7 linked regions of the Homo sapiens genome follow. The protein of the gene in region 7 interacts with the protein of the main gene of each other region in a pairwise test. Each region holds a gene or a part of one and is shown on either strand. Other genes may lie near its edges.

Region 1 (4,434 bases), on a different chromosome or scaffold from region 7:
ACAGAATTCCTGACATTTTAATAAGCTAAACATGCAGTCATCAGGTATTAACCCCTATTGGATCTTGGACATCAGCTTTTTCCCCCTTTTTTTTGAGATAGGGTCTTGTTTTCTTGACCAGGCTGGAGTGCAGTGGCGCAATCATGGCTCATTCCAGCCTTGACCTCCTGGCCTCAAGTGACCCTCCTGCCTCAGCCTCCCTAGTACCTGGGACTACAGGCATGTGCCACCATACCTGGCTAACTTAAAAAAAAATTTGTAGAGACAGTGTTACACTGTGTTGTCAGGGCTGGTCTCAAACTCCTGTGCTCAAGTAATTCTCCCACCTCGGCCTCCCAAAGTGCTGGAATTATAGGTGTGAGCCATCCCACCTGGCTAAAATTTATTTTCTTTATACATGTATAGGTAAACTAAGTAGTATGTGTAGAATAGAGCCATTGTCTTTCTGCTGTACACTAAGTTAGGAATCAAATTTCTTAAGCCATTTTGTCAATTATGTATATAAAAACCATTGGTGCTTTAGAAGCAGATATTTCATTAACTTTTTTCTGATTATATCATTGTACATCATCAGTTCAGTCTAAAAAGGAGTTTTTTTCATATGTATTATAAAATATTTCATGATATTTGAGTTTAGTATGCCTTTAATCCAGTTGTAGATGTTAAAATAGGAGTAATTTTGTGTTCAAAATAATGATCTTCTGAAAAGTGAAATTCTAGGAAAGAGTCCACTGTTTAAAGCTAGCAGCTGGTGGCCGTGTGGCCGAATAATGTCCCAGGCCAGGGCACTCCCCTCTCAGATGGTTGGTCATGCTGCGTCGGAGATCAGGAATCCTCAAGGAACCTTTATGTTATAGTTGTACCAGTGCTTTAAACATAATGAAAGGTGCATTTGTTTTATTTTACCCATCTATAAATTGTGAGAGGTTTGGCTATGGAGAGTCTAGTGAGCTTATTGAACAGCATAAGAAGATAAGTGTGTGTGTTTGTGTGTGTGTGAGAGTGTGTGTATGTGTGTGTGAGGGGGAGGGAGAAGTTATTGTGCTTTCCAACATATAATAAATTGCTTACTTTGATCACTAACTGTTAGGTAAATACTGATGATTTCTAGCATAAGTCTTTTTTCTTTTTTTTGGAGACAGGTCCTCCCTCTGGCGCCCAGGCTGGAGTGCAGTGGCCCAATCAGCTTACTTCAGCCTTGACCTCCCTGACTCAGGTGATCCTCCCACCTCGGCCTCCCAAAGTGCTGGGATTACAGGCATAAGCCGCTGTGCCCAGCTGATATAAGACATATTTTTAACCAACTTTAAGATCTTAGTTTTTTTTCAGGATGGTTATAAGCGAAGGTAGAATTGCAGAAAGACTTTGTGGTAAATATTCAGGATTCGGCTCTGTTGCCTTACAATTTGTTAAGTGCATGATGGAAAAATAGTTGAAACAATGCAACAGCTGTCTCAGTTCTGAAAGTTAACTCAGAAATGGCAGAAAGCAAGGTCAGGCATGGTGGCTCCGAGCACTTTGGGAGGCCAACGTGGGAGGATGGTTGAAACTCTGTCTCTATGAAAAATATAAAAATTAGCTGGGCATGACAGTGCACACGTGTAGTCCCAGTTACTCAGGAGGCTGAGTTGGGAGGATCACCTGCGCCCAGGAGTTTGAGGCTACAGTGAGCTATGGTGGCACCACTGCACGCCAGCCTGGGCGGCAGAGCAAGGCCTTGTCTCAAAAAAAAAAAAATCATAAAAATAAAGCAATGGTAGAAAGCAGAATTTGACCTTTCAGTTACAGATGAGGAACAAAGTGAGGAGAGGCCATTTTTTGGTAAAAGAACCATCTGGCGGGACGCATTGGCTCATGCCTGTAATCCCAGCACTTTGGGAGGCCAAGGCAGGAAGATCACCTGAGGTCAGGAGTTCGAGACCAGCCTGGCCAACGTGGTGAAACCCCATCTCTACTAAAAATACAAAAATTAGCCGGGTCTCATGGCAGGCGCCTGTAATCCCAGGTACTCGGGAGGCTGAGGCAGGAGAATCACTTGAACCCGGGAGGCAGAGGTTGCACTGAGCCGAGATCGCGCCATTGCACTCCAGCCTGGAGGACAAGAGCGAGACTTTATCTCCAAAAAAAAGAGAACCATCCAAAAATTGCTCAGAGGTCAAGAATTTCAGAAGAAAATACAAAAACTTTGGCTGAAGAAGATTTAACTAGTGCTATAGAAGGCTTAAGAAGTGTGGTTCTAGCACTTTTCCAACTCATATTTGTATCAAATACCAGGAAAAATAGTTATCACCATTTATCATCTAGATTTCTGGGCCGTTTTACTGTTTTGTCATTTTAAGTTGTTTTACACGTAATTTACAGAAGTAAGAATAAAGCAATAATTTAAAACAACTTTATAAGAAATTTGATCCAACCTCTTTGTATCAAGTAAGTTTTGACACACAAACATTAGAAGTGTCCTCTTAAGGAAGTGGATGGTCCAGGTTCCTTTGAAGTGTGATCATTCATGTGAGCGGGCAGCTGATTGAGACTACTGTGTCCCCTTTTCGTCCCTCACTTCCTCTTGATTCTGAGAAGATTGATCTAGGGTATTGTCAAATGAAGACTTGTCTGAGATTTTATTTTCACGTCAGTTTTGCCATCATCATTGGCCATGGGTGCTCTCTCTCTGCATTCATCTTGTGACTCATCTAATGATCCCGAAAAGTCGACACTGTCATGTTTCTTTGCTATTTTGGGAAGAAATTGAAATGTTCTTAGTGAATCATCTTGTTAAAGCAAGCTAATCTGGGCACTGTGGCTCATGCCTGTATTGCCAGCATTTTGGGATGCTGAGGTGGGAGGATTGCTTGAGCCCAGGATTTTGAGGCCAGCTTTGGAACATAATGAACAGAGACCCTGTCTCTACAAAAAAATAAAAAATAAGCTGGGCACAGTGGCGCATGCCAGTAGTTCCAGCTACTCAGGTGGCTGAGGCAGGAGGATCACTTGAGCCCAGGAGGTTAAGGTTGCAGTGAGCTGGGATTGCACCACTGCACGCCAGCCTGGGTGACAGAGCAAGACCTTGTCTCAAAAAATTAATTAAATTTCTTTTTTAAAGTAGAATTCATGGCCGGGCGCAGTGACTCACACCTGTAATCCCAGCACTTTGGGAGGCCGAGTTGGGCAGATCACAAGGTCAAGAGATTGAGACCATCCTGGTCAACATGGTGAAACCCCGATTCTACTAAAAATACAAAAATTAGCTGGGCATGGTGGCACGCGCCTGTAGTCCCAGCTACTCAGGAGGCTGAGGCAGGAGAATGGCGTGAACCCGGGAGGCAGAGCTTACAGTGAGCTGAGATTGTGCCACTGCACTCCAGCCTGGGTGACAGAGTGAGACTTCGTCTCAAAAAAGACAAAAAAGAAAAAAAAAATTAGCCGGGCGTGGTGGCATGCGCCTGTAGTCCCAGCTACTCGGGAGGCTGAGGCAGGAGAATTGTTTGAACCCGGAGGCGGAGGTTGCAGTGAGCCGAGGTCATGCCACCAGCCTGGGCGACGGAGTGAAACTTTGTCTCAAAAAAAAAAAAAAATTACAGGCTGGGCACGGTTACTCACACCTGTAATCCCAGCACTTGGGGAGGCCGAGGCGGGTGGATCACCTGAGGTCAGGAGTTCAAGACCAGTCTGGCCAACATGGTGAAACCCCCGGGAGGTTGAGACAGGAGAATCACTTGAACCCAGGAGGTGGAGGTTTCAGTGAGCCGAGTTCGTGCAACTGCATTGCAGCCTGGCAACAGAGCAAGACTCCGTCTCAAAAAAAAAAAAAAAAGTAGAATTCATTAAGAAGAGGGGCAGGAACATCATTAGGGAAATTACTTGCATTATAAAAATGTTTAGAGCTGGCCAGGTGTGGTGGCTCATGCCTGTAATCCCAGCACTTTGGGAGGCCAAGGCGGGCGGATCACGAGGTCAGGAGATCAAGACCATCTTGGCTAACATGGTGAAACCCTGTCTCTACTAAAAATACAAAAATTAGCTGGGCGTGGTGGCGGGCACCCATAGTCCCAGCTACTAGGGAGGCTGAGGCAGGGGAATGGCGTGAACCCAGGAGGCGGAGATTGCAGTGAGCTGAGATTGTGCCACTGCACTCCAGCCTGGGCGACAGAGCAAGACTCCGTCTCAAAAAAAAAAAAAAAAATGTTTAGAGCTTGGGAATTGTTAATGCGGAAGGTGCACGTTCTGAACAGGTGGAAGTGAGCTCTACTTGTTAAATGAAGTCAGCACAGGCCTGCAGATAGAGGAGCTGGGAAGGGCCTGAGGCTGCAGCCCTAGACCTTGCTTTAAATGCTTCTTTCTGGTCCTCCCCTTCTTAGCCGGAGGACTGTGATGGAGAGAAGAGAGAGGACTTGGAACAGCTGCAGCAGAAGCAAGTCAATGACCATCCTCCAGAGC
Region 2 (4,434 bases), on a different chromosome or scaffold from region 7:
GCAATCGTGCGCTTCCAGATTGGCCCCGACGTCAATAAGAAGCCTCACACATTCGGAACTCCCTTAAGATAAATGGAAAAGGGGGGGAATGTCCTTGAATACGGACACTGGAGACAACAAGCACACAGACGCGGCAGGGGCAGCAGCCTCCATCCTTGGTGCAGGGCAGGGAAGCCAGGCAGGCCTGCGTCCCAACCTAGGGAGGAGTTCATGACCCGCATGGCCCTCAGGAAGCCAGGACACGGCTCTGCGCCCCGCTGAGGACGGAGGGCTCAAGGCAGTGGGAGAAACGGGCCTGGCCGGCTTCTTGCTGTGAGAACAGAAGACATGGGGCACCACCTAGAATGGGTCAGGGAAAACTCCCCCGCTGCCCCCCTGCCCTGTGTCTACCTGCGGCTGTCAGCACTGAGCCCAGCCTCCCAGGAAACCCCCCAGACTTTCTTATGCAGGTCATCCTCCTGTGCACCACGGCAGCCGCCTCTCCTGCCTCTTTTTTTTTTTTAGACAAAGTCTCATTCTGTTGCCCAGGATGGAATGCAGTGGTGCGATCTCAGCTCACTACAACCGCCATCTCCCGGGTTAAAGCGATTCTCCCACCTCAGCCTCCCAAATAGCTGGAATTACAGGCATGCACCACCGTGCCCGACTAATTTTTTTGTATTTTTAGTAGAGACAGGGTTTCACCATGTGCCAGGCTGGTCTCAAACTCCTGACCTCAGGTGATCCGCCCACCTCAGCCTCCCAAAGTGCTGGGATTACCAAGGGCATGAGCCACAGCGCCCGGCCTCTCCTGCCTCTTAAGTGGCTCCTCTTCCTGGGTCTGTAATGCGGATTTGGAGCGGGGTTCCAGGCCCCCCATCCTCCCGCCCCTGCACATTCCGTCTAGGCTCCAACCTTTCCGTTCACTCAATTACCTCTTCACTGTTGGCAGCTCCCTAATTTTCCCCACCAGCCTCACACCCAGCCCCAGCCCCAGAGCCATGTGCTGGCCACCGGCCGGTGTCTCCCACTCTAGAGCCCTCTCCCTTTCCTGGGGTCCTTGCTCCTGACTCAAACCTGACTCATTTCTGACCTCTTGAGCCTCCCCTTCATACGAAATCCTATGGATTCCTTCCCCAACCCTACTAAATGAAACCATCCCACTCCACCAGCCTACTCTGAGCACTGGGCACCTTGATCTCAGCGATGGTCCCCAACTCATCCCTCTGCTTCCAGGAGACCCCAGCCACCACTGCACCTCCGTCTATCTGCACATGGAGGACCACTAAATGAACCTTCCCCAAATTCTGTTTTCCTGACCCTCGACATCTGCTCAGAAACCTTCAAGAGCTCCCTGGAGCTGTCCCATGGCCTGCAGACATGGAAAGACCTACGAGCAGGAATCAGGGGTGAGCCACATGCAGCCATGGCCCTGCCAGCACCGTGGAAGGGCACATACCCCATACCCTGCACCCCAGATGTGCATCCAAAGACAAAGGCCATGCTGGCCGGTCAAGATATAAGCCACAGTTTGCAACCTCTGCTCGAAAGAGTAGAATCTAAACTCCTTAGTCTGTCATTTAAACATCTTCCCACCAGCTGGTCTCACCCTAAATTCCAGTCCTCTCTGCTCCACTGGGAGCTTCTGATGCAGTAAGATAGGACAAGGAATGTTCCCCATGCTCGGGGTGCCCTTTTATCTTCCCAGCATCTGCAGTCTGCCTATTCTTGGGGGGCAGATGAGGTCCCACCTGCTCCCTGAGCCTGCAGGACCAGCACTGTTTTGAGAGCACCACGCACAGCCTCCTGGCCCAGGCTGTTGGGACACGTTTCTCTGTCGTCTCCCATCTCAATCAGGGGCCTGCAGAGCAAACTGTAGCAAAGCCCAAGTGAGCCTCTGCAGAGTCCCCCAGGCCCTGCTAACGTGGAGAGGCCCAGGGAACCCTGGCTTGGACACAGAATCCTACCCTAGAGTCACCCACCCCAGCCCTGGACGAAGACCTCAAGAAGGGAAAGCTTAGAATCTCTGCAGCTGAGCCACCAGGAGCCAGAAACAGACTCAGAACTCTCCTTCACCAGCCAAGGGCTCCCAATTCTGTCTACTCTGCTTCCTTCCCTAAGTCCCTTTAATCCCAGAAAGGAGGAAACTTCCAGAGCCCAGCTGGGCCAGCCCAGCCGTCTGCCAACTCACCGCTCATGCAGGCCTCGTGCAGGGGGGACGCTGTGTACAGGGGAGGGTTGACCTTGGCCCCGTAGGACAGCAAGAGCTTCACACACTCGATGCTGCCCGAGGCGCAGGCATCGCAGAGCGGGGTGCTGCCGTCGATGTTGCGAGCATCCACCTCACGGGAGGAAGAAACAAGTGTCAAAGGGCAGAGAAATGCCACGCAACCCACTTTCCCATCCTGCTGCAGGTTCATCTTTGCTAAGATGCTTCTTAGAAGCACCGGTTTGCTTTGCTATTATGTGCTAGGCAACGACACTGAAAGAGATAGCACGTGGCTGCGGAGCACCGACGGCCTCCTGAGTAGAGAAGTCATCTCGTTCAGGATTCTTTTCTCTCAGGGCAGGATAAGCTCAGCAGCCCCCTCGCCACCCCCGCCCCAAACACCTAGTAAGCACAGAGCAGGACAGGGGAACCCTAGGCTGCAAGCTGGGAAAGGCAGGCTTTAAAAATGAGTTTTAAAAACCCTAACCTCAGCTGGGCACAGTGGCTCACACCTGTAACCCCAGCACTTCGGAAGGCGAGGAGGGAGGGTCACTTGAGCTCAGGAGTTCAAGACCAGCCTGGGCAACATGGCGAAACCCTGTCTCTACAAAAAATACAAAAATTAGCTGGGTTTGGTGGCATGCACCTATAGTCCCAGCTACCCAGGAGGCTGAGGTGGAAGGATCACTTGAGTCAAGGAGGATGAGGTTGCAGTGAGCTATGATCACGCCACTGCATTCCAGCCTAGGCGACAGAGAAAGACCTTATCTCAAAAAAAAAAAAAAAAAAAAAAAACCACACACACACACACACACACACACACACACACACAAAACTCTAACCTCAATGGAAGGAATGCCTGAGACAGCTTACCACGCCTCCCCTAGTGAGAAAGTCAGAGGCCAGGAAAAAGGCAACTCCCCAAATTGGCAAATTTTATTTAGCATTTGTCCAAATTCAAATTCTATTTGGGTACACACTGAAATCGGTTCCATTCCAACCTTTTGGGAAGAGTAAACAGTACACTGTCTTCCCTTCTTCCTCACCCCTTGAACTCTGAGACCAGGTCCCTGTGTCACTTATACATTGGCCAGGGGTGTGCAGGGCCAGTGTTTGCCAGCTCGGGAGAGCTGGCTGCCAATGTGCCAGGAATTCTGCTGACCAGAAACCCCCGGTGGCTTAATACTAGCCAGGGTGGGAACATTTACACCAGGGAAAGCAGCAACACAGTTTTGTTTTTGTTCCTTTTTTCAGAGAGCTGGCTGGCCAGCATCCCACTGAGTTATCCTAAAGCCGGAAACCTGCTCTTTGGGCCCAAGCAGCAGCTCTGCACCCAGGCCTGGCTGCCCCTGAGAGAGCCTGTGTCTAGGCTGCGGCCAGCCTGCTGGCTCCTGCCCACCACAGGGCTGGCACTCCCATCATCAATTTGCTCAGGCTGCCCTTTCTTCCACCACCGTGACCTCCTAACAGCCAGGTCCACGAGCACTTCTCAGCCATGGGCTTCCTGGTACCTGTGTGCAGTGGACACAGTGCAGCCCCCATCCTCCCCTCTTTCCCAAGTTCTCCTGAGTCAACCTCCTCCATTCTGGCAGCTGCAGCCAGTCTGGGGGTCTGCCCTGAAGGGCCACTCACCTGGGCCCCAGCCGCCAGCAGCAGCTGCACACACCGCGCCTGGCCCTGCAGACTGGCTGCGTGCAGGGGCGTGATGGAGTCCACGGTGACCTGGTTCACGCAGGCGCCGCTCTCGATCAGCTGTTGCAGCTGCAGGCTCTCACCCCGCTGGGCTGCCTCGTGCACAGGGGTCCGCTCCACCCAGAAACCTGGAAAGGAAGGGGACCTCAGGCTAAGACCCTGCCACTTCCATCCAGGACAAATGAGCACACGTAAGACTCCAGGGTCCCTGATGCCACCAAGGCACCATCCGTGATCATGCAATTGTCCCAGCACTTCTACAAAGATCCCTGAGCCACCCCCACTGCCTGACAGCTGGAGTCCAAGCTCCTGGGCAAGGCCTACAAGGGGCTCCGTCCTGTGGACCCCGCTCACCTCCACAGTCCACCTCCCACCCCTGCCCCTGCATATTCTGCAGGCACAGGTGCTCACCACTCCCCTGCAGTTGCACATCCTTCTCTGCTGACATGCCCACCTTTGCCCCCCTGCCAATTGTCCACTCTGCAATTTCCTGGTGAAACGTTTACATCCTCCAGGTGGGCCCAGGTAAAACAACTTCTCTGGGAAACACTTCC
Region 3 (4,434 bases), on a different chromosome or scaffold from region 7:
GACATGTAAATACGAAATTTACACTGGGCGAGGTGGCTCAGGCCTGTAATCCCAGCACTTTGGGAGGCAGAGGTGGGCGGATCACCTGAGGTGAGGAATTGGAGACCAGCCTGGCCAACATGGAGAAATCCCATCTCTACTAAAACTACAAACAATTAGCCGGGAGTGGTGGTGGATGCCTGTAATCCCAGCTACTCGGGAGGCTGAAGCAGGAGAATCGCTTGAAACTGGGAGATGGAGGTTGCAGTGAGCCAAGATCGCGCCACTGCACTCCAGCCTGGGCAACAAGAGTGAGACTCCATCTCAAAAACAAAAACAAAAACAAAAAAACCCACGAATTTTAAAGGTCCCTGGGCATATTTTCGGAATGAAGGGAAAGACCTAGGAAAAAAAAAACCGGTTGAAGACAGAACAAAAAAGAGGGTAGAGATAAATGAAGGAGCAAGGTTTGGTATTCAGAACACGGTTTGAAAAATTAGCCTTAAAGGAAAAAAGGTGAGGAGGTAACTTTGTTGCTAGGGGGCTGAAAGCCAATGAGTTCCTGACAATGGGTCTGGTTTCCACTTTCTTGTTAAAATAATAAAAACATTTAAAAGTTGATGAGTACTTATCTCATTAAATCCTCACACTAACGCTGTGAGACTAGATGAGTGTTTCTTAACCCTGGCAGCATATTAGAATCACCTCCAGAAATTCTAGAAAAGTTTTTCGTTTTTGTTTTTTGAGATGGAGTCTCACTCTGTCGCCCAGGCTGGAGTGCAGTGGCGCAATCTCAGCTCACTGCAACCTCCGCCTCTCGGGTCCAAGTGATTCTCCTGCCTCAGCCTCCCGAGTAGCTGAGATTCCAGGCGCATGCCACCATGCCCAACTAATTTTTGTATTTTCAGTAGAGACAAGGTGTCACCATGTTGGCCAGGCTGGTCTCGAATTCCTGACCTCAAGTGATACACCCACCTCGGGCTCCCAAAGTGCTAGGATTACAAGCATGAGCCACAGAGCCCAGCCCTTCTAAAAAAGTTATCAAAGTCCAGGCCCCCCTCCAAGAGATTCTGATGCAGTTGGTCTGGGATGAGACCCTAGGCACTCGTATTTTTTTAGGCGAATCTGATGTACGTCTAGGGTTGAGAACCATGGAATGAAGTTCTCTGTTGACTGATGGGAGTGGGGTGGTGGATGGCTACAGGTGGGCGGTAAAGGATTGCTGAGCAGCACTGAGGGCCTAGGTAAAGTCAGAGACCAAGTATTAGTAGTCCCAATCCCCAAGGCTGTGTGACTTTCCAGTAGGGCCCAGCAGTTCTGGGGAGCTTTTTTTTTTTTTTTTGAGATGGAGTCTCGCTCTGTTGCCCAGGCTGGAGTGCAGTGGTGTGATCACGGCTCACTGCTACCTCTGTCTCCCAGGTTCAAGTGATTCTCCTGCCTCAGCCTCCCGAGTAGCTGGGATTATAGGCACCCGCCACCACACCCGACTAATTTTTGTATTTTTAGCAGAGACGGGGTTTTACCATGTTGGCCAGGCTGATCTTGGACTCTTGACCTCAGGTGATCCGCAAGCCTTGGCCTCCCAAAGTGCCAGGAGTACAGGCATGAGCCACCGGCGCCCGGCTGAATTTTTCTTTCTTAAGTAACTGTTTCAAATTTGAGCCAAGCTACTGAAATAAGTTCATCTATAAGCAAATATAATACTCATATTGGAATTATTAGTAAATACTTTATTTACATACTTATTAAAAATCAAGTATTAATATTTAAGTTGCCCCCAGCTAGACGTTTTCAAGGAAATCTTTTCTTTTCTTTTCTTTTCCTTCCTTTCTTTTTTATTGATGCATAGTAGATGTACAGTTTCAAGGTAATGCAATAATCTAATACATTCATATAATTGGTAAAGATCAAATCAGTATACTTGGAATATCCATCACCTTAAATATTTGTCTTTTCTTTATACTAGAACCACTCGAATTCTTCTCTTCTAACTATAGATCTAATTTTAAGTGCATAGAAAGTAGACCATTGGATTGATCCTGAGTAGCAGGGAGGTGGATGCAGGGAGGTGGCCAAAAGAAAAACTGGACCTCCTCAATCCAATGATCAAGCCCTTAGGCCTAATTTTGAGTGTGCAGGGGATAGGAAAACAAACATGAAGCCTAGGAGAAAGTGGGGAGATTAGGGTGGGCTTGAGGGCTTGGGGGTCTGTGAGGAGAAGAACAGAGGAACAGGATTGGCGGAGGCAGGAAGGGAAGGGGAAGGAGGGAAGCTGTGGTCAGTGGATGGGTCTCAGAATCTGCAGAGCTTATAGCGACAAAAGGGCAGGGTGTGGGCACAGGGGTGGGGTCTGAAGCAGAATGACAGAATGTGAAAGGAGCTGAACCCTAAAAGGCCAGAGGGTCCCAGGGTCCCTCACCGACTGGTGCCTTCAAAAAACACTTGAAACAACCCAGCTGTCCTTCAACAGGTGAATGGTTCGACATACTACAGCACTTCCACATCATGGGATACAGGTTGAATATCATTTATCCAAAATGCTTGGGACCAGAGTGTTTCGGATTTGGGAATATTTGCATTAAACTTACCAGTTGAGCATCCCTAATCTGAAAATTCAAAATCTGAAATGCTATAATGAGCATTTACTTTGAGTGTCATGTCAGCGCTCAAAAAGTTTCAGATCTTACAGCATTTTGTATTTTGTATTTTTGGATTAGGGATACTCAACTGGTACTATTTAGCAATACAGAGGAATAAACTATTGATAAACAAAACCACCTGAATGAAATCTCCAGCGAATTATACTGGGTGAATAAAACCAATCCCAAAAGGTTACATACTGTATTATTCCATTCATATAACATTCTTGACATTATAAAGTTACACAAATGGAGAACAGATAAGTTGCTGCCATGGGTTAAGAGGGCAGAGGTGGGGCAGGAGGGAAGCGGGTATAGTTATAAAAGGCCAAGAGGAGGGATCCTTGTAGTGGTAGGATTGTCTGTATCTTGACTACATCAATGTCAATATCCTGTTTGTGCTATTGTACTATAGTTTTGTTAGGTGTTACCATTGGGAGAAACAAAGGAATACGTATTATTTCTTTTCCTTTTTCTTTTTTTCTTTTTTAGAGACAAGGTCTCATTCTGTTGCCCAGGTTGGAGTGCAGTGGCGTGATCCTGACTCACTGCCGCCTCAAACTCCTGGGCTCAAACAATCCTCCTACCTCAGCCTCCCAAGTAGCTGGGACTACAGGCACACACGACCATGCCCAGCTAGATGTATTATTTCTTAAAACTGCATGTGAATCTATAATTATCTCAAAATAAAAGGCTTTATAAAAACAAATTTAACCCTAATCTACTTTCCTAGTGAATAACGTGCCACTCCTTTCCATATATCTCATGAGTGGCCACATTGAACTTATTTTTTTTCCAGAGAGGGTAAGGTGCCTCTTTAAAGCCACATGCACCAGGTGTGGTGGCTCATGCCCCTATAATCTTAACACTGTTGGAGGCTGAGGCGGGAGGATCGCTTGAGGCCAGGAGTTCAAGACCAGCCTGGGCAACATAGCGAGACTCCATCTCTACAAAGATAAAAACAACAAAACAAAGTTTTTAAAAAATTAGCTAAAGCCGCCAGGCACGGTGGCTCATGCCTGTAATCCCAGCACTTTGGGAGGCCGAGGCAGATGGATCACCTGAGGTCAGGAGTTCAAGACCAGCCTGGCCAACATGGTGAAACCTCATCTCTACTAAAAATACAAAAAACTAGCTGGGCGCGGTGGCGGGCACCTGTGATCCCAGATACTTGGGAGGCTGAGGCAGGACAATCGCTTGAACCTGGGAGGCGGAGGTCGCAGTGAGCCGAGATCGTGCCATTGCACTCCAGCCTGGACAACAAGAGTGAAACTCCGTCTCAAAAAAAAAAATAAAAAAAAGTAGCTAAAGCCATATGCAGTGCAACAGTCTCTTAGGTTAGATGCTTGTGAAAACATATTAGGTGAAAACTGCATATAGCCAAAATTACCCTAGAATATCCCTTTATGAAGATGTCATATGGGAGACCAGCATGTCAGCTCTCATTTAAGCCCAGACATAGCCAGGAACGCTGTACTCCGTTTGTAACATGAAGTAACTGGGTTGTATTTAGGGGCTATGTTTTATGAAAACTTATCTTTGGATACCAGAACCCCACTTCACATGATTGGATGCTCACACAAGAATTCAGGGCAACTATAGAAAAGCAGGTGCATGTCTCTCATCTCTCTCTCTCTCTGTGGGGCATAGGTTCATTGAATAGAAGAGTGGGCAGAACAGTCCACACCATTTACATGATCTCTCTTTTTTAGGCTACACATGTATGGCTGAATTTATATGATGCAGTTCCACTGCTATGCTTATCATACAGCAATGAAATACATATCTTTACCTAACTGCTCCCAAGTAGCCTGTG
Region 4 (4,434 bases), on a different chromosome or scaffold from region 7:
CATATTTTCCATCTCTTTGTCTCTCTAAGATATACTGTGGATAAATTTCTTTGATTCATAATCTAGTTTACTAATTCTCTGTTCAGACGTCTGTAATCTGGTGGTTAAACCACCTACTAAATTTTACATTTCAATTATTATATTTTCAATTTCCAGGCATTCTATTTGGGCCATTTTTCAAATCTGTTTGCTCTTTCTTTATAGTTTCTTATTCCCTGCATGTTTAAGTTTAAAAATGACTGCATTTCTGCATTTTAAAGCTTATTTCTGACAACTTTAGAGCATACAAGCATAGTTATTTATAGTTTGTGCCTGGTAATTTCATTATCTGAATCCTTTCTGGGTCTGTTTATTCTGTTTTGTGGATTCTTTTGATTTTTTTTCTTGGTGCCTTTTTTCATTACGGATTAAGTTATTTACTTTTTTTTTAATTGTAGGCTGCTCATTTTCCTTGGATTTCACTTGTGATAATTCTTTGAGGACTGGAATATAGGTGCAGAAGATACATAAATGTACTTTTCCCAAGTGTTTTGGAATACTACCAGTTTGGGATCATTCTAAATTAAGTTCTTTGCTTGAGATCTTAAGAACTATTCAGTTAATGTGAGTATGGGCTGTAAATTAGTGTGATACTTGTATTAGACTGTGATTCTACATTCTCAGGGATCATTTTTCCTCTATCACCTGCTCAATACTGAAGTTTAAAAAATGCAAGCCTTTTTTTTTTTTTTAGAAAAAAATTCCCTCTCCCTGCGCTGCCTCCTCTGTGTATGCATGTGTAGTGCACAGCTCTTCGGGTGGCCCAGCTTTATGGTGGAAAGATCTTCTGTGAGACTACTCATCCTGAGTAGGCCTGTTCCCTTTTTCCTATGAGGCCATGGAAAGCAAAGTTCAATTTCACCCCATGAGTTAAATATCCTCAGGACAAGAGCTAGCTGCTGCACTCTCCTTATCTTTTTGAGTTCTTATCTACATTTAGTTATTGGTCTTAAGAATGTCTTACATTCTTACTAGCTCATCACTATATTGCAGGTTTAAAAAATACTTAATCAAGGATTTATGGTTGTTTTGATGGATGGTCAGTATAGATATGTAGCCTGTCCATTGCTGAAACAGAAGTCTATTCATATATTCTGAAAAGACAGATAAGTCTGCCAAAGAAGTTGACATCATCATAAATGATATGGCATACTTGAAATAGTATTCAAATATAGTCTGAATGGTTATGCACTCAGGTAGTTGGTAATATGGATATATTTTGTATTTTTCTTTTCAATTTTTAAATTAAAGTTTAAATTAAAATTGTCTAAGTATAAATGCAGTATTTCTTATAAAAGGTGTTCTTCCATACTTACAATGTAGTCTTTCACTGAGATCATTAAGGGACTCTAGGATCTTCTGTTCTTCAGCTGACAGTGTGCAGATGTTGAATTGTTGAGTTTTATTTAAAGGTAGATTTGATTTCTGTATCTGTTTGCTATTCAAGACAGTCAGAATCTCATCCTCCGGCACTGATGCTTTCACTAAGTTTTCAGCCATCAAAAACTCAGAAGTACTATCTGAAACTACAGAAACTTACATCAGTTATTCTTTGAACCCCTTTTGTCTTTGAGATCAGCCCTTATATATACTTACATATACTTATACATGCTTAACTGTCTGTATGTATTCATATTACAAGCAGAAACCTAGCAAATATCTGCTACTTTGATTTCATTTATCAGGATCCTCTATCTAGCATTTTCCTATCCTTCGTTTTTTAAAAAAGGATATTCAAAATGACGGCAGTGAGTTAATAAAAATTCCCAGAGTATTACTTGAACTAAAGAAAAAAACTATATAATGCAGATAGTTTTTGTCATGTTTGTTATTCATTGGTAGTACAAAAAAGATGAAGAAGACTGTCTTTATAATAGTAGTTATAATGAATTATAACAAAGTAAGACCAAAAAACCCTTAAGATTAGAAACTTTGATGATCAGCTAAACAGAACTGACAGCCTAGAAACAGACCCAATTAGATATAAGAACATGTGATCAAAGAAGCATCAAATATTTGACAGAAGGGAAAGATGATTTTACATATTAGTTTTTGCTTATAAAAGAATCAATTTGGGCTGGGTGCAGTGGCTCATGCCTCTAATCCCAGCACCTTGGAAGGCTGAGGCAGGTGAATCACTTGAGGTCAGGAGTTCAAGACCAGCATGGCCAACATGGTGAAACCTCGTCTGTACTAAAAATACAAAAATTAGCCAGGTGTTATTGTGGGTGCTTATAATCCCAGCTACTTGGGAGGCTCAGGCAGGAGAATCACTTGAACCCAGGAGGTGGAGGTTGCAGTGAGCTGAGATTGTGCTACTGTGCTCCAGCCTGGAGCTCTGTCTCAAAAAAAAAAAAAAAAAAAAGAAATCAATTCAGAGTTTTACTTCCCACTGTTTGTTTAAACAAATTCGTAAGAAATTAAAGACAAACTTAAGGAATCAACCCATTAATTAAAGCAGAAGAAAATGAAACAAATGTTTCTAAATGTCTGTATTGGGAAGGTTCTTTGACAAAGCTTAAAAGTAATGGAGACATCAGTAAGAAAAGACTAAATAAAACATGTTTATTTAAAGCCAGTCTTCCCTAATAGACTTTACACTTCTGAAGAGCAACACTTTTGTATATTTTTTTCATTATTGTAAATGTTAAGTATTCCTTGTCCAAAATGCTTGGGACTAGATATGTTTCAGGTTTTGGACTTTTTTAGAATTTTGGATATTTGCATACACATGAGATATGTTGGTGATGAGACCTAGGTTTAAACATGAAACTCAGCTGGATGCGGTGGCTCATGCCTGTAATCCCAGCATTTTGGGAGGCCGAAGTGGGTGGATCACCTGAGGTCAGGAGTTCAAGACCAGCCTGGCCAACATGGTGAAGCCTCATCTCAACTAAAAATACAAAAATTACCCAGGTATGGTGGCATACGCCTGTCATCCCAGCTACTTGGGAGGCTGATGCAGGAGAATTGCTTGAACTTGAGAGGCGGAGGTTGCAATGAACCAAGATTGCACCATTGCACTTCAGCCTAGGTGACAGAGTGAGACTCTGCTTAAAAAAAAAAAAAAAGAAACTCATTTATGTTTCATATATACCTTATACACATACCTGAAGGTAATTTTATATAATATTTTAAATAATTTTGTCCATGAAATGAAGTTGGTGTATATTGAACCATCAGAAAGCAAAGATATCACTGTATCAGCAACCTATGTGGATTATCTGTGGTTGTTTGGTATCACTGTTATTCCTGACTCCAAATTTATATCTACTGAAAAGCAATAATGTTCTTACACCTATTCACACGTAAGTACTTAACAGTAAAAAATAAGATGTATCCTTCACACTGTCAGAAAATAATGTGTTCAGGGCAACTAAGCACCACAGTAACATCACCAGAATACCTGTGTCGGCTGTTCAACAACAGCAACAAGGAACAATGGCAGGCTTCCAATCTTAGGTATTATGTTACATTTTGACCAGATGGTTACTGTACACTGTATTTTATTTTTTTAGGTGAGAAGAAACATCAGAAGCAGCTGAGGCACAAGGAAGTGGGTCCTCTAGGGATGAGGAAATATTCTGCTAGATGACCTTAAAAAATGTTTCTTCCAGAGACTTTTGCCTCATTTACAATGTCTTTTTTTGTCCTATAAGCCTCTCTTTGATTTTATAAACTGACATAATTTCTTGTTGTTATGAGTGTACACTGCTCTAGTCGTTCAATAAACCCATCACACATTTTCATCATATTGTCAATTGGCACCTTTTTCTTTTTCAGTGTTAACAATGCCATTATCATCACTATTATCACAATCATCTTAATTCAGAGCTCTTTTGGCTATTTCATCATTGGTCAATGAAAACACCTGGAGTCTTATTATCGATGTTAATAACCTCTTTGATATCCACTTCTTCCAGCTTACTGATAGACTCTGAAGGTATATTTTTTTGCTTACGTAATGAGGTCAGACATAATTTTTTCTCACTTGACATACAGAATCCTTCAGTCACTACCTTGTTCATCATCACTGAACATAGTTGCAGGCCAGAGGTTGTGCCAGGAATGCACAATTGTGTCTTTAGTCCCTGTGTTCCAAGTGTTTGCAACAGCATGTATGGCATCTTTCATGCTAAACTCGTTTTGAAAACCTTCTACATCCACATCTCTGTTCACTGTTGCTGGCATGCTGTTCAAGAAAGTGTTTATATGTATTTACTCTTCATCTACCTAACGATAGTCTGGTCACACAGCTGAATTAATGAAGTAATATTTGGGGGAAAGCACGTGGCATAAAGATTATTTTTGATGAGAATTTCAGCTGGAGGATGAAAAGAACAGTTGTCAAAGAATAACAAAATCTTGCAGTCATCATTCAATCCAGCTTCCCTG
Region 5 (4,434 bases), on a different chromosome or scaffold from region 7:
GCGGATCACAGGAGTTCGACACCAGCCTGGCTAACATAGTGAAACCCTGTCTCTACTAAAAATACAAAAAAATAGCCAGGCATGGTGGCAGGTGCCTGTAATCCCAGCTACTTGGAAGGCTGAGGCAGAAGAATTGCTTGAACCCAGCAGGCGGAGGTTGCAGTGAGCCGAGATCAAGCCACTGCACTCCAGCTTGGGCAGCAGAACAAGACTCCATCTCAAATTAAAAAAAAAAAAAAAAAAGAAAAGAAAAGCAGTTTTCAAGCCATAACATGTAGCATCTGGAGCTTCTATTGTATCTCAGGTGCGCTCCTTTGAACTGTGTACATATTAGTTCAGTTAAGCCTCAACTATACTATAGGGCAGGTACTATTATTATCCCATTTTACAGATGTGGAAACTCCTTAAAGCACTATACCGTGTGAGAGGTTGTCAACAGCATCACATCTAGTGCAACCTGTCCCACTGGGCAGTGGGGAGACCTGGAGCCCAGGCAAGAGCAGTGGCTTGCTGGAGAGGATACAGCTAGGACTAGGACTCAGACCTCCTGCTCCCTCCTGCCCCCAACCTGGGGTGGATGTTAACTGTCTCCAAGAGGCAGGGGCAAGATGGATTGAGGTGGGAGCTTAGGGAATATCCCTGGGACTTGCAGCTGGTGGGCTCCAACCCTCCTTTCTGCATTTTTGGGACCCAGCCTGTAAGAGGAGTGCTGAGGCAGGAGGTCCCCCTGGGTCCTCAGCTCTCAGGTTAAGTCTTAAGTAGAATGTCGGGGGGATGCTGGACAGGCCTGAGCCCTGACTCCCAGCCTGTGGGGTGGGGTGCATTAGCATTAGCTGGTCCTGGCCCCAGAGCTGAGTCACAGGGTGGAGGGGTAACGGAGAACAGGGTGGGGCCTCTGTTTCCCCCCGACCTCTGCAGCCTTTGCTCCCCATCCCTGGCCTCCTGCCTGTCTGTGGATACCTAACCATTGCAATGGGTTCATTCTTACTCTTTGGGCTCCTCATCAGCAAAAGAGGCCTTTCCTTCCTCTAAGGCCATGGACAGGAAAAGTCTATAGATGCACTTCCACTGTGCCAACTTTCTCGGCAGGTGGAATCCAGGCTAGTTCAGTATCTCCTCTTTAGCTAGGTTCCTTCTGCGGAAGTTTAACTCCAGTTTCTTCACCCTGCTGTTTTCTACCTTTCTTCTTACGGTTCTTCCTACTCCTTGGGACCTTCTTGAATCCCTGTGTCCAACGTCTGGGGGCCCCACACATATGCCTGAAGGACCTGGCATGGGCTCCCTGCAGCAGAAGTGGTGTCCGACCCCCAGCTGTGGAGGACCAGGCAGGAAAGAGGCTGGGAGTCCTGGGCAAGTTCCTGCCCCTCAGGGCCTTGGCCTCCTCTGTACAGTAGTAGGATGGAGGTGGAATCGAGGGTTGGACACCTGATCTTTTGGGCCTTTCTAGCTCTGAAGTCTCTTACTGGGTCCTATCCTGGGCCTTGGGGTGATCCCCCTTCTGCTGCCCAGGGCTGGGCTGTTGAGATGGTGCAGGAGGTGGTCCAGGGAAGGTGGCAGAAGGACTGAGTGGGCTGGGAGCTGGGGAATGCAGATTTCTTTTGGGCGCTGTGTGAGCAGCCCTGGAGACTCTCTGAACTTGAGTCTGTTTGCCTGAAATGCTACTATTAGCCGATTAGCCATGCACTTATCAACTAACATGGATGTTGCCCCTTCTAAAGGCATCCAGAGTTATTCCCAGCATGTAGAGCCCTGGGCCTGATATACAGTAAGTGCTCAATGAATGCATTTAGAATGCACTGGACAATTTGAGCCAGGGAGTGAAGAGAATATTATCTAGACAGCCCTCAAGAGCCCTCCTTAAAGGAGAAGTGGGAAAGCATGGGTATTGAGCATGCTATCTGTGTGTAGTGGGTGCGTTTGCAGTGCTCAGGGGTGTGCTGTCCTCTATGCCAACCCTTCCCTGCTCCTAATCTTCTTTGTATGGTGGATTCTCTGCAGCCCTCGGCGACTGAGTGCCAGGCACAGGCAAACTTCCTTCTCTTCCCAGCAACTGTCCCCACTGGCTTAAAGGCAGAATTCGTCAAGTCCCTTTTAATTCAGAACTGAAATTCATTCACCAGCTGCTTGTTCATTCATTCAGATTCTTCTAAATTGGGTCCTCTGCCCAGGTTCATCTCCACCCCCCATCTGTCACCTGGTTATTACACAACCTCCTCGAGTTCCCTGGGGGCTGGGATGAGGAGGGAACAGGGCGTGCATGTCTGGGAGATACACCAGGTGGCCTTTGAAGAGTTGTTTTAGAATCAGCAGTGTGATGGGGGTGGGGGTGGGGAGCCAGGGCACAGGTGACATGGGAGAGACATTCTGTCAGGGGAACTGGGAGAGGCTCCAGTGTAGAAGTGGCACCTGATCGGGGCCATGAATTATGAATAGGAATCCAGGGGGCAGAGGTAGGAAGGTAGGAAAGAGCCAGGTGAGTTTGACGAACATGGGGGTCAGTGTGGAATGCGTGCAGGGGCCAACTCCCAGAGGTGAGGGCCCCCCAGGCCAGGCAGATTGGTGTGGACCTTGATCTGTAGGTAGTGGAGAGCTAGGAAAGGTGCCCAGCTTGGGATACCTCTTTAGATGCTGCAGAGAACCTGTCAGAGGCTGGGGCGGAGGGCAGGGAGACGTGGCGGGGCTGTTGTAGCAGTCCAGTGAGGGACAGGGTTGAATCAGTTCAGCAGGCCTATATCAGGATCTGCTGTGGGCCAGGCCTTGTTCTGGGTACCAGAGACACAGAGAGGTTGAGGACAGGCTCTATCCTCATTGAATTCATAGTCCATCAAGCAGGGCTGTGACTGGTCACATGTGGGCTACTGGTGGCACTGCACATTTGGAGAGAAGATGATGTGCTTGGTTTAGGAGGTGCTGAGGGTGATGGCTTGGGTAACATCCTGGCAGAGACACCCAGGTGGCTGGAATGTGGGTCTGGGGCTCAGGAATGACGTCCGAGTTGAGCTGATGAGGGTGCTGTCTGCCCTCAAGGGTACAGGGAGCACATGGAGATCAGAGCCCTCACACGCTGTCCTCTGCTCTGCCTATGCCAGGCGCCTTCGCCAAGGTGAAGGAGAGCCAACGCATGAGTGACGAGGGCCGCATGGTGCAGGACGAGGCAGACGGCATTCGCAGGCGCTGCCGCGTGGTGGGTTTCGCCCTGCAGGCCGAGATGAACCACTTCCACCAGCGCCGTGAGCTCGACTTCAAGCACATGATGCAGAACTACTTGCGCCAGCAGATCCTCTTCTACCAGCGGGTGGGCCAGCAGCTGGAGAAGACCCTGCGCATGTATGACAACCTCTGACCGCGTGTGCCTGGGCCCCCTCCTTCCCCTGGGCCTGGTCACTGCAGTGTACCCCACTTTCCCGACCTCCCTATACCAGCAGTGACTGGGGGAGGGGTCAGCGGTGGGGGAGATAAGCGGCCTGTCCTGCCTCCTGGGAGAAGGAGCTTTCAAGGAGTCATGGGTGCCCCTGGGAAATTCCCCACTCCTTAGAAGTGGGGCACAGCAGGGGTGAGAATAGAGTCAGGAGCCCTCGAGGCCAAGGCCTGGGCTGCCGGTCAGTCAGTGAAGGTCAGGCCAGGGTCTCAGCCTCCCCTAGAGCCTATTTTGCTTGCTCACCTGGCCACTGCTGCCTTATCCATTCAGCAGACACCGAGGCCTGCTGCACCCTTGGGTCGGATGCTGGGCACCCAGGGCTGTGACATGCCTGCTCTTCAGGAGTCCTCAGTGAAGGTCGGGGTCAGACACAGACAGAGTCAATGCAGTATGACTGATGTTTAAGTGAGGGATTTCTGGAAGCTCATAGAAGGGACCACAGCATTCCACTGGTCAGGGAAGACTCCATAGAGTAGGCAACATTTGGGCAGTGTTTTGAAGAATGACAAGGGCCTGCCAGACAGTACATGGGGGAGAAGGACTTTCAGGGGAGAGGAACAGCATGGGCAAAGTTATGGAGGCATGCAAACATCTCCCTCTTCTCTCCCTTACTTTCCAAGCAAGTTAGGTACGCTTTCCATGGGGATTCTGGCCTGTGTGGTAGGAAGGGATCTCCCTTGCTCCCATGTTGCTGGCTGTCCGTACATCACCCTGTCCCCTGCAGGAGGGGGCTACAGGCCATCTCCCTCCTGTAGGCCTCTGACTCCCCTCCACTTTTGGGCCCTCAGCTTATCTCGGGCAGGGGACCATTGCAGCATCCTCCCCTCCTCGGACTCAAGGTGCTGAGGTATAAGCCCTGGGCCCCAGATCCCTGGTGACACCTTCCTGGAGAAGACTCTCAAAAGTGACTGTATATTTGAGTTCACCAGCAATAACTCCCCACACTCGAAGCAGGTCCAAACCCAGGATCTCAGGGTCCTTGGGCTCTGTGGCACTGTCTTCCCAAGATCCTTCCT
Region 6 (4,434 bases), on a different chromosome or scaffold from region 7:
CTATGTTACCTAAACATTTCCACTAGATTTCTCCCTAAGCCTTTTGTTTTCTTCTATAATACTTAATAGCATCCCATGAAACACACCTCAGTGTCATGAGAAGAAAATGCCTAAATGTTTAGTGGGGTACATACTCCTGAAATAAGGTCATTTCTCAGCCTCCCTCCCCCTTTGATCTATAACCATGTGACTGAAAGCTATCCAAGGAGATGTGAGGGAAGGTTTTGTATGAGGTTTCAGTAAAGGCTTGTTTGCCCTCTTTTCTTCCTTCTGGACTTGAAAATGAAGGCCAAAGCCATAAAGTGGTATTGAGATTGGACATAATGCATTAAGATCACAGAGTGGAAAGAGAAAAAGAGCCTGGGTCCCTGATGGCTGTGAAGAACACCACACGAGCCCTCAACTCTCTACTTTTGGATTTATTTTATGTGTAAGAAAAATACAATGTTGTTTTCTAAAGACATATGTATTTGGGGTTTTTCTAATATGCAGCTGAACATAGTTCTAACTCATACAGGGTCTTTTTGCTTTGAATTATGAAACACTTTTATGTTTCATAACATAATGATACAGAAAATAATAATACACATTATGTACTCACTACCTAAGTTATAGAGATTTTAACACTTTGCTTCTGCTTTCTCTTTAAACAACTATTTTTTTCCTTTTCATAATTTATTTGGCTATTCTGAGGCATTTATTCTAACATATGAACATTTGTCTAATTACATTTCTTTTTAAATCCCCGTTGGGATCCTAATTGGAATTGTATTACATACATGTATCAATTTGGGAAAATTGACTTTTTAATGGTGTTTAGACTTTCTATCCAAGGACATAGTAAGTTTTTGCATTTGTTCAAATTTTATTTTATGTTCAATAAAATTTTATGATTTTCTTTATAGGTCCTGTGGCTTTCTTATTTGATTTATTTAGAAATATCTCACAGTATTAAGCTATGGATTTTTATGTATTGTCTTATTGACTTCTCTCCAGCCCACAGCAAAGCAGAAACAAAGACTCAACAAAAAGCCATGGGGCCTTGTGCAAGAGAGAAAGACCTGGATGCATGTTTACGGAGTAAATTCTTCTGCTCTCAAACACACTATAAAGCTGGGGCTGAGGATGGGAGAAAAGAAAGCAGAGAGATGGATTCGAGGGATTTAGAGTGGGAAGGAGAAAAAGAACCTCCCATTAGGGGAAGCAGGAGTGGAAGGAAGGGACTCTGAGATGAAATGTCCTAAGGGAAAGGCCCTACCAGTCCACCATCACCACAGGATAGTCTGCACATAGAAGTTACCTATGGGAGAGAACAAGGGACCCTGGACATCAAGCGTGGAATGGGGGCATGTAGAGAAAACTCTGCTCATAACCAATGTAGAAATGAGTAGAACCAGTTGAGAATTTTTCTATGTGCTTGGGTTACAGGGGCTGCTGCATTTCCTAAACTTATCAAGCCATCAAAACTCCCTAAGACACATTTTTAAATACTGTCTCAAGGGAACTAGTTTTAGGAGGCTAGGCCATGCTGAAAGTTTATAAGCCAGTGATTGAAAACTCAATTGCCTTCAGTGGCAGTGGTGAAGCCTGTGGCAAAGGCATTCACATTCAACCTCTTAAAGTAAGGGGCTGCTGGACCAAAGCACAGTCTATGGCTTCCATTGACCCATGGGCTACCAGGTCTAGATTTTGGAAGATGATTTTCTGTCATTTCATAGACCAGTACTTTCTAACTTTTGTCCCAAAATGGTGCACATAGCAAATATTTGTACTGGTAGAGTGTGGTAAATGGACAAAATTGTTCCAGGAAGAGGGAACTGGCCCATGGCTTTGCCTCGTACCTCGCTCCCAGCCATACTCTGCCAATTCAACGGTGCAGAGGATTTGTGTCTAAGGTACACCTGTAACCCACCCTCAAACCTCAAACGCCAGTATGCCCAGGCACATGCAAGTTGAGAAGATCTTCATACTTGTTGTTAATTTAGCGATCAGATAAGAGATGTGCTTACAAGAGCAATGGAGAGAATCTTTACCCTTGATCCTATATACTATACGCCAAAAATTCCCCCAACAAACCTTGATCCAGATTGAGATAAAGGTGACATCAATAAATAAAAGATTTGCTAAGAATATTTTCATTATCCCAGCATAAACCCTTATTTAGAATCAATCATTCTGTACTTTTCATTATGTACCATCTACTGAGACTTGGAGACAAAAACTGTGAAAAGCAGACCCACTTAAATGCTACAGCAGACTTCCAGAGACCATATAGTTCTCTCTCTCTCTGTGTGTGTGTGTATGTATGTGTGTGTGTGTGTTCAGAAAATCTTGGAACTTACCTGCTTTGTGGGGGTGAAATCACTTGACTTTAGTTTTGGTTGTCTCACTCCTACCTCACCACACTCCCACCCACCAGAGAGGACTCTGAAAGGGTTCCATGGAGCACAGTTTGCAAGCCACCAAAGTCTAATTCCCTTATTTACAGTTAAGACCCAAAGAGATAAGGATAACCTAATTAGTTAGAGACAGAGTTGTGATTAGAAATGTTAGGTATGAAAATCAATTAGAGAATCCATCAGAAACAAATACATTTATAAATGGCTAATCTGTATAATCACAGTAAGTTTACTCCAAGTTATAGTAGCCTTTAAGTGTTATGTGCAATACAGCTGGCTTCTTGATGTCATTAACCAGCACAAGAAGAAGAGCTTGCTGAGAAGAAGTGCAGTCAGGTGGAAGGCAATTTTGGTGTTCTTTTCCTACCCATTGAGCTTTTAAATATCCTAACCCCCTATCAAATATTCATTCCAGGGAATAATCTACTATTGATTCTACATCTCCATATGAATTCATATTAATATGCTGCTTCTCCTGGGGACCATTAATTATTGGGGAAAAAAACACGATGAGGTTTTTCTCCCCTGATAAAGGGATTTCAGTCTGGTAGTGGAATACCTGGGATCTTCCTGAGCCCCTAAAAAAATAATAACCCCTTCTCAAATAGACAACTGGTCTATTTGACAGACATTTCCCATTCGGCCATTAGGAAAATGTTTCTTCCCAGCACTTGTAAGCAAATTCTGTTGATAAATATAGCCATTACAAAAAACATTTAGTAATCCAGCCAGTCAGCACATGAAATGTTTAGACAGGCGACTTGTAAAGATTATAAAGTGCCTATATCAAGCTTGGCCCACCTGCTCTTTCTGCTTGAATGATTAAGAGGGTTAAATTTAGTTCTAGAAAAAGTTATAGAAAAATTTATTTTTATTGATGCTAGTACAGAAGGATTTTTTTTGATTAGTGATGATCCTCACAGTGTTAAAGAAACCATGATATTCCCCTTAAATTTAACACAATGAACTTTGCTGACTGCCTTTACTACGCCAGGCACTGTGCTACTGATATCATGTGAGTTCTGATTCACTGGGGGTGATGTTTCAAAGCACTGCCCCTCTCTGAAGGGATTCCATGTACTTGTTCACCATCTGCGTAGTATTTGGAATCCCTGTGGCAGACTGTCATAGATTACGGGATATGGAACATTAAAGAGCATAGTCTACTCCATCCTTTCCTCCTTTTACTTTACACACAAGGAAACAGAGGTCCAAGAAATGTGGAATGGCATGTTACACATCTCACTGATGCACACTGGGGAGGCTGTGGGCCACGTGACACCCATGCCATATGCAGCCTCCTTCTGTATTTTTGCAGCGAGTCAGATTCTCCTAGGAGCTACGGACCATGGCACCGGCACCATCTGAGTTAGTGACAGTCATTGTCTGATATCCAGGCTAAGCCACCAAGATGGGAAGCTCAGGTTGGCATCTGAGCCAGGTTACCAACCTGAGGAGCAGCCTGGTGCCATTTCAATGGCCGATGACATGCGGGGAGGGGCTGACTGTGTGGCGCCCAGAAGACTTGCTTTGACAGACCCCTTCCTGGATACTGTATGAGTGTGTAAAAAGCAAAAATTTGGCTACAGCTTGTTACTTGTCCTTGATTTCTATGTGATTGTTTGATAGGAAGGTGCTATTAATACTTTCTTATGATTGGATTCTTTCCCTTAGAGATAATTGGATCTTACTTCGCCTTTCTTGCACATGGATTTGAAGATGAGTTCCCTAGACATATTTTTAGGTTTAAGAGCTAAACCTAAACCTTCATAGGCAATGAAACATCAAGGCCCAGAGCCAATTCTTTTCCTTGTCAAAAACAGAACTTTAAAGATATCTTACAGATATCTTTTTCAAATAAGTTCTGACACTCTCAAGATTAATCCTACACAGCATTTAGGCAATCTTATGCCACCCTGGCAACAATTTGAACTCAAACACTGACCTTGCTCTTTGAGGTTGAAAGGCCCAGCTGTCAGTCTATTTTGCCCATTAGAGCTTGATCTAAAAGAGATTTTTAAATTTTTTCGTACCA
Region 7 (3,500 bases):
GACAGGGTTTCACCGTGTTAGCCAGGATGGTCTCGATCTCCTGACCTCATGATCCGCCTGCCTCGGCCTTCCAAAGTGCTGGGATTACAGGCGTGAGCCACCGCGCCCGGCCCTAATGAGGCTCTTTGGGGCAAGACAAGGTGGTTGAGTATCTGATATGTAAGTCCTGCTTCCTCGTAAGGGTCTGTGCATATAGGAAGTTCTATGGCCAGAAATGGCTTGAAAATTGCCAAACGTGGTTCTCCATAAGAGCCTTTCCAGGAATAGAGTGTTTTGTTTTAAGACTAGGAAAGAGATCTTTTTTCTGTGAATTGGCCAGTGCAGTTATCAGGAAGTAAATTCCATGCCAAATCTTGGAAATGAACCTGCATGAGAGCAAGGGGACACTGGGTCTTGTTCACTGCTTGGCATAGGGTAGGTGCTTTAAATTTTCCGGCCCAGTGGATTTGTTGGATGAACACAGCATAGATCTGGGTCCCTGAAGGGGATCTAAGCTTTTAAGGAACAGATTCCACCTCCCAATCCTGTTTCCTACTCCACGGGTTGCCTAGAAGGAGGGCGGTGGGGTGGAATGGGACTGACTCTGGGCTACTGTGAATACAGGAGGGTGTGGAGGATTGCAAAGTCCCCGGCCGTCATAAAAGGACACAGCCTCATACTTAGATGCTCCACCCCAGGCCCTCGTAGTGGTTTGGACATCTTTGTCCGGTTACCTGGGTGGCACTGGGGGAGCTATCTCACCCTGGGGATGGGCCCAGCCCCAGAGGGTGTTTCCCCGGCCACCTGCGCCCTGGGCTGTGCCCAGTTGGCCCAGCAAGTTGCAGTAGGCGGGGTGGCCCGGGTCCACCTCCCCAAGCTGGAGCCTGTCATGCAGGGAGCCAGAAAGTTGGGGTCGAGAGGACTGGGGAACAGAGCTTTCAGTCCTTCCTGAGGGAGGCCCACTTCATCACTCCCTGTGCCTCTGTCCCAGACCCCCTACTTCTGGGGTTCAGCCACCCTCCCAGGCCCCAATACGTGCCTAATGCCATGGATATTCTTGATAGCATAGCTGATCTCCCTTCGGAGTTCCTTCTCATCAAACTCCATCTGTGTAGAAAAGCAGAGAAAAGCCTGGTCAGGGCCTGTCCTACTACCTGGGAGGTCAAGACAGGGCCCACCCCACACCTAGGGCTGGGCATCAGGGCCTGTGGGGTGGGGGCCAGCAAAAACACACGCAGAGAGAGTCCTGAGTGAGGGTGGGGGGAGTCCTGAGCCATCCTGTCCCCAGGGCTGCCTGACCTACCTTGACCAGCTCGAAAGGGAAGCGCTCGTGGAAGATTCGGTTAATGCGGGCTCCCCCTGACAGTTCGTAGGTGTCGATCTGATCTCCTGAGCCCTCAATGCGCTTCTCAAAGTCTACGGCGAACTGCTGGACCATCCTGGTGGGAGAGTGGTGTGGCCTGAGGGGGCAGGAGCAGCCCAGCAAAGGGAACCCTGGGAGAGCCCCACGCTGAGAGGCTGGGGGCGGGGATTCAGTGATAGGAGCTGGGGGAGCCTCACTGCAGCAGGGCCTTGGTCTTGCGAGCTGGGTCATCAGGGCGGAAGTTCTTGTATTCCTCCACCTCCTTCTCAATGGACAGTAGCTGGCTCTGCAGCTTGTTCCGCAGCCCCGGCAGTGTGTCCCGGATGTGGTTCGTCAGTTGCTGGGGGTAAGGGTGAGGAAAGGGTTGAGGACAGATGGTCACAGGGCCAGGAAGGGACTTGGATGCCAGGGGACTGTGTGAACGTGGTGAGGTGGAGAGCTATGGAGGGCAGCCCTGCCACTGCTGCCCGGGCCACTAGCAAGAAAACTGGTTCATAGAAGGAGCTTGCAGAGATGTATTAGTTGAATTAATGAGTGCATAATTTTCAATAAAGCCAGAAATCTGGATTTGTATTTGGAATTTCCTGATTTTTGGCCAATTTAATCTTTTTATTTTTATTTATTATTATTATTTTTTTGAGACGGAGTTTCACTCGTCACCCAGGCTGGAGTGCAATGGCGTGATCTCAGCTCACTGCAACCTGCGATCTCTGCCTCCCAGTTTCAAGCAATTCTCCTGCCTCAGCCTCCCAAGTAACTGGGACTACAGGCGTGCACCACCATGCCCAGCTAATTTTTTGTATTTTTAGTACAGGTTTTCGCCTTGTTGGCCAGGCTGGTGTCGAACTTTTGGCCTCAAGTGATCCACCCGCCTCAGCCTCCCAAAGTGGTGGGATTACAGGCATGAACCACCATACCATCCCAATTTAATATTTTTAGACGTGCGTCTGAGGCAGGGGTGGCCAGAGGGCTGCCCCTTGGACCCTCTGGGTTTAAAGCCTCCTTTAAGGTCATTCTCAAGTTCTAGCACTCATGCTCACTAGGTGCCCCCACACAGTATCTCCCTGAACCTTTACAACAATCCTATGAAACAGGTCTGATCACCATTGTCTCCATTTTACAGATGCAGAAATAGAGGCTCAGAGGCCAGGCACGATTATGGCTCATGCCTGTTATCCCAGCACTTTGGGAGGCCAAGGCGGGCAGATCACCTGATGTCAGGAGTACGAGACCAGCCTGGCTAACATGGTGAAACCCCGTCTCTACTAAAAATACAAAAATTAGCCAGGCGTGGTGGTGTGTGCCTGTAATCCCAGCTACCTGGGAGGCTGAGGTAGGAGAATCCCTTGAATCCAGGAGGCAGAGGTTGCAGTGAGCTGAGATCGCACCATTGCACTCCAGCCTGGGTGACAAGAGCAAAACTCCATCTAAGAGAGAAAGAAAGAAAGAGAGAAAGAGAGAAAGAGAGAAAGAAAGAGAGAAAGAGAGAAAGAAAGAGAGAAAGAAAGAAAGAGAAAGAAAGGAAGGAAGGAAGGAAGGAAGGGAAAGAAAGAAAGAAAGAGAAAGAAAGAAAGAAGAAAGGAAAGAAAGAAAGAAAAGAAAAGAAAGAAAGAAAGAAAGAAAGAAAGAAAGAAAGAAAGAAAGAAAGAAAACAAATAAAGAAAAAAGAAATAGAGGCTCAGAGAGCCAGAGAGAGTGTCTCAGAGGGGGAGTGACAAAACTGGGATTGGAAACCAGGTCTTGCCTACACAGACAGACAGTCAGACAGACACACACACACACACACACACACACGCGCGCGCGCGCGCACTTCAGTTCTGGATGCCCCATTCCAGATGGAGAAAAGTCCTGGGGAAGCCCCTGGGATTCCCTGTCAAGGTCTTCAGCCGAGTATACTTGAATCCTGGCCCCCAAACCCAAGCTCTTCCCCATGACACCCTCCACATAGGTCTTGGCCTTCTCTGTGTTGGGGACTTCCAGGGCTTCCCTGGCAGGTCCCAGACAGGGAAAGGTCAGTGAAGCTTTGCTGCTACCTAGCTGTGGGGCTGTGGGCAAGTTGCTTTGCTTTTCTGAGGCTCAGTTTGTCTATCTGCACTACGGAGAGGCTAACCTCTGCTGTTCACTCTCAGAACACACTTAATTTATCCTGTTTTCATGC

The links.
Region 1: the proteins of DNM1 (region 7) and PCNT interact in a two-hybrid assay, tested with the Homo sapiens proteins (one large-scale study listed by BioGRID and IntAct).
Region 2: the proteins of DNM1 (region 7) and ASB13 interact in a two-hybrid assay, tested with the Homo sapiens proteins (one large-scale study listed by BioGRID and IntAct).
Region 3: the proteins of DNM1 (region 7) and PIN4 interact in a two-hybrid assay, tested with the Homo sapiens proteins (one large-scale study listed by BioGRID and IntAct).
Region 4: the proteins of DNM1 (region 7) and CEP126 interact in a two-hybrid assay, tested with the Homo sapiens proteins (one large-scale study listed by BioGRID and IntAct).
Region 5: the proteins of DNM1 (region 7) and SNX33 interact in binary tests that used the Homo sapiens proteins (3 or more experiments, as listed by UniProt).
Region 6: the proteins of DNM1 (region 7) and NOSTRIN interact in binary tests that used the Homo sapiens proteins (3 or more experiments, as listed by UniProt).

The regions. Positions count from the first base shown.
Region 1 is NC_000021.9:46,330,042-46,334,475, forward strand, and holds part of PCNT (pericentrin), read left to right. Parts: intron 1-4,355; coding exon 4,356-4,434. UniProt on the Homo sapiens protein: Integral component of the filamentous matrix of the centrosome involved in the initial establishment of organized microtubule arrays in both mitosis and meiosis. Plays a role, together with DISC1, in the microtubule network formation.
Region 2 is NC_000010.11:5,649,043-5,653,476, forward strand, and holds part of ASB13 (ankyrin repeat and SOCS box protein 13), read right to left. Parts: intron 4,009-4,434; coding exon 3,821-4,008; intron 2,322-3,820; coding exon 2,171-2,321; intron 63-2,170; coding exon 1-62. UniProt on the Homo sapiens protein: May be a substrate-recognition component of a SCF-like ECS (Elongin-Cullin-SOCS-box protein) E3 ubiquitin-protein ligase complex which mediates the ubiquitination and subsequent proteasomal degradation of target proteins.
Region 3 is NC_000023.11:72,187,840-72,192,273, reverse strand, and holds part of PIN4 (peptidyl-prolyl cis-trans isomerase NIMA-interacting 4), read right to left. Parts: intron 1-4,434.
Region 4 is NC_000011.10:101,983,963-101,988,396, reverse strand, and holds part of CEP126 (centrosomal protein of 126 kDa), read right to left. Parts: intron 1,566-4,434; coding exon 1,356-1,565; intron 1-1,355. UniProt on the Homo sapiens protein: Participates in cytokinesis. Necessary for microtubules and mitotic spindle organization. Involved in primary cilium formation.
Region 5 is NC_000015.10:75,653,873-75,658,306, forward strand, and holds part of SNX33 (sorting nexin-33), read left to right. Parts: intron 1-3,089; coding exon 3,090-3,343; 3' UTR 3,344-4,434. UniProt on the Homo sapiens protein: Plays a role in the reorganization of the cytoskeleton, endocytosis and cellular vesicle trafficking via its interactions with membranes, WASL, DNM1 and DNM2. Acts both during interphase and at the end of mitotic cell divisions.
Region 6 is NC_000002.12:168,805,137-168,809,570, reverse strand, and holds part of NOSTRIN (nostrin), read right to left. Parts: intron 1-4,434. UniProt on the Homo sapiens protein: Multivalent adapter protein which may decrease NOS3 activity by inducing its translocation away from the plasma membrane.
Region 7 is NC_000009.12:128,220,379-128,223,878, reverse strand, and holds part of DNM1 (dynamin-1), read right to left. Parts: intron 1,683-3,500; coding exon 1,540-1,682; intron 1,419-1,539; coding exon 1,283-1,418; intron 1,087-1,282; coding exon 1,019-1,086; intron 1-1,018. UniProt on the Homo sapiens protein: Catalyzes the hydrolysis of GTP and utilizes this energy to mediate vesicle scission and participates in many forms of endocytosis, such as clathrin-mediated endocytosis or synaptic vesicle endocytosis as well as rapid endocytosis (RE).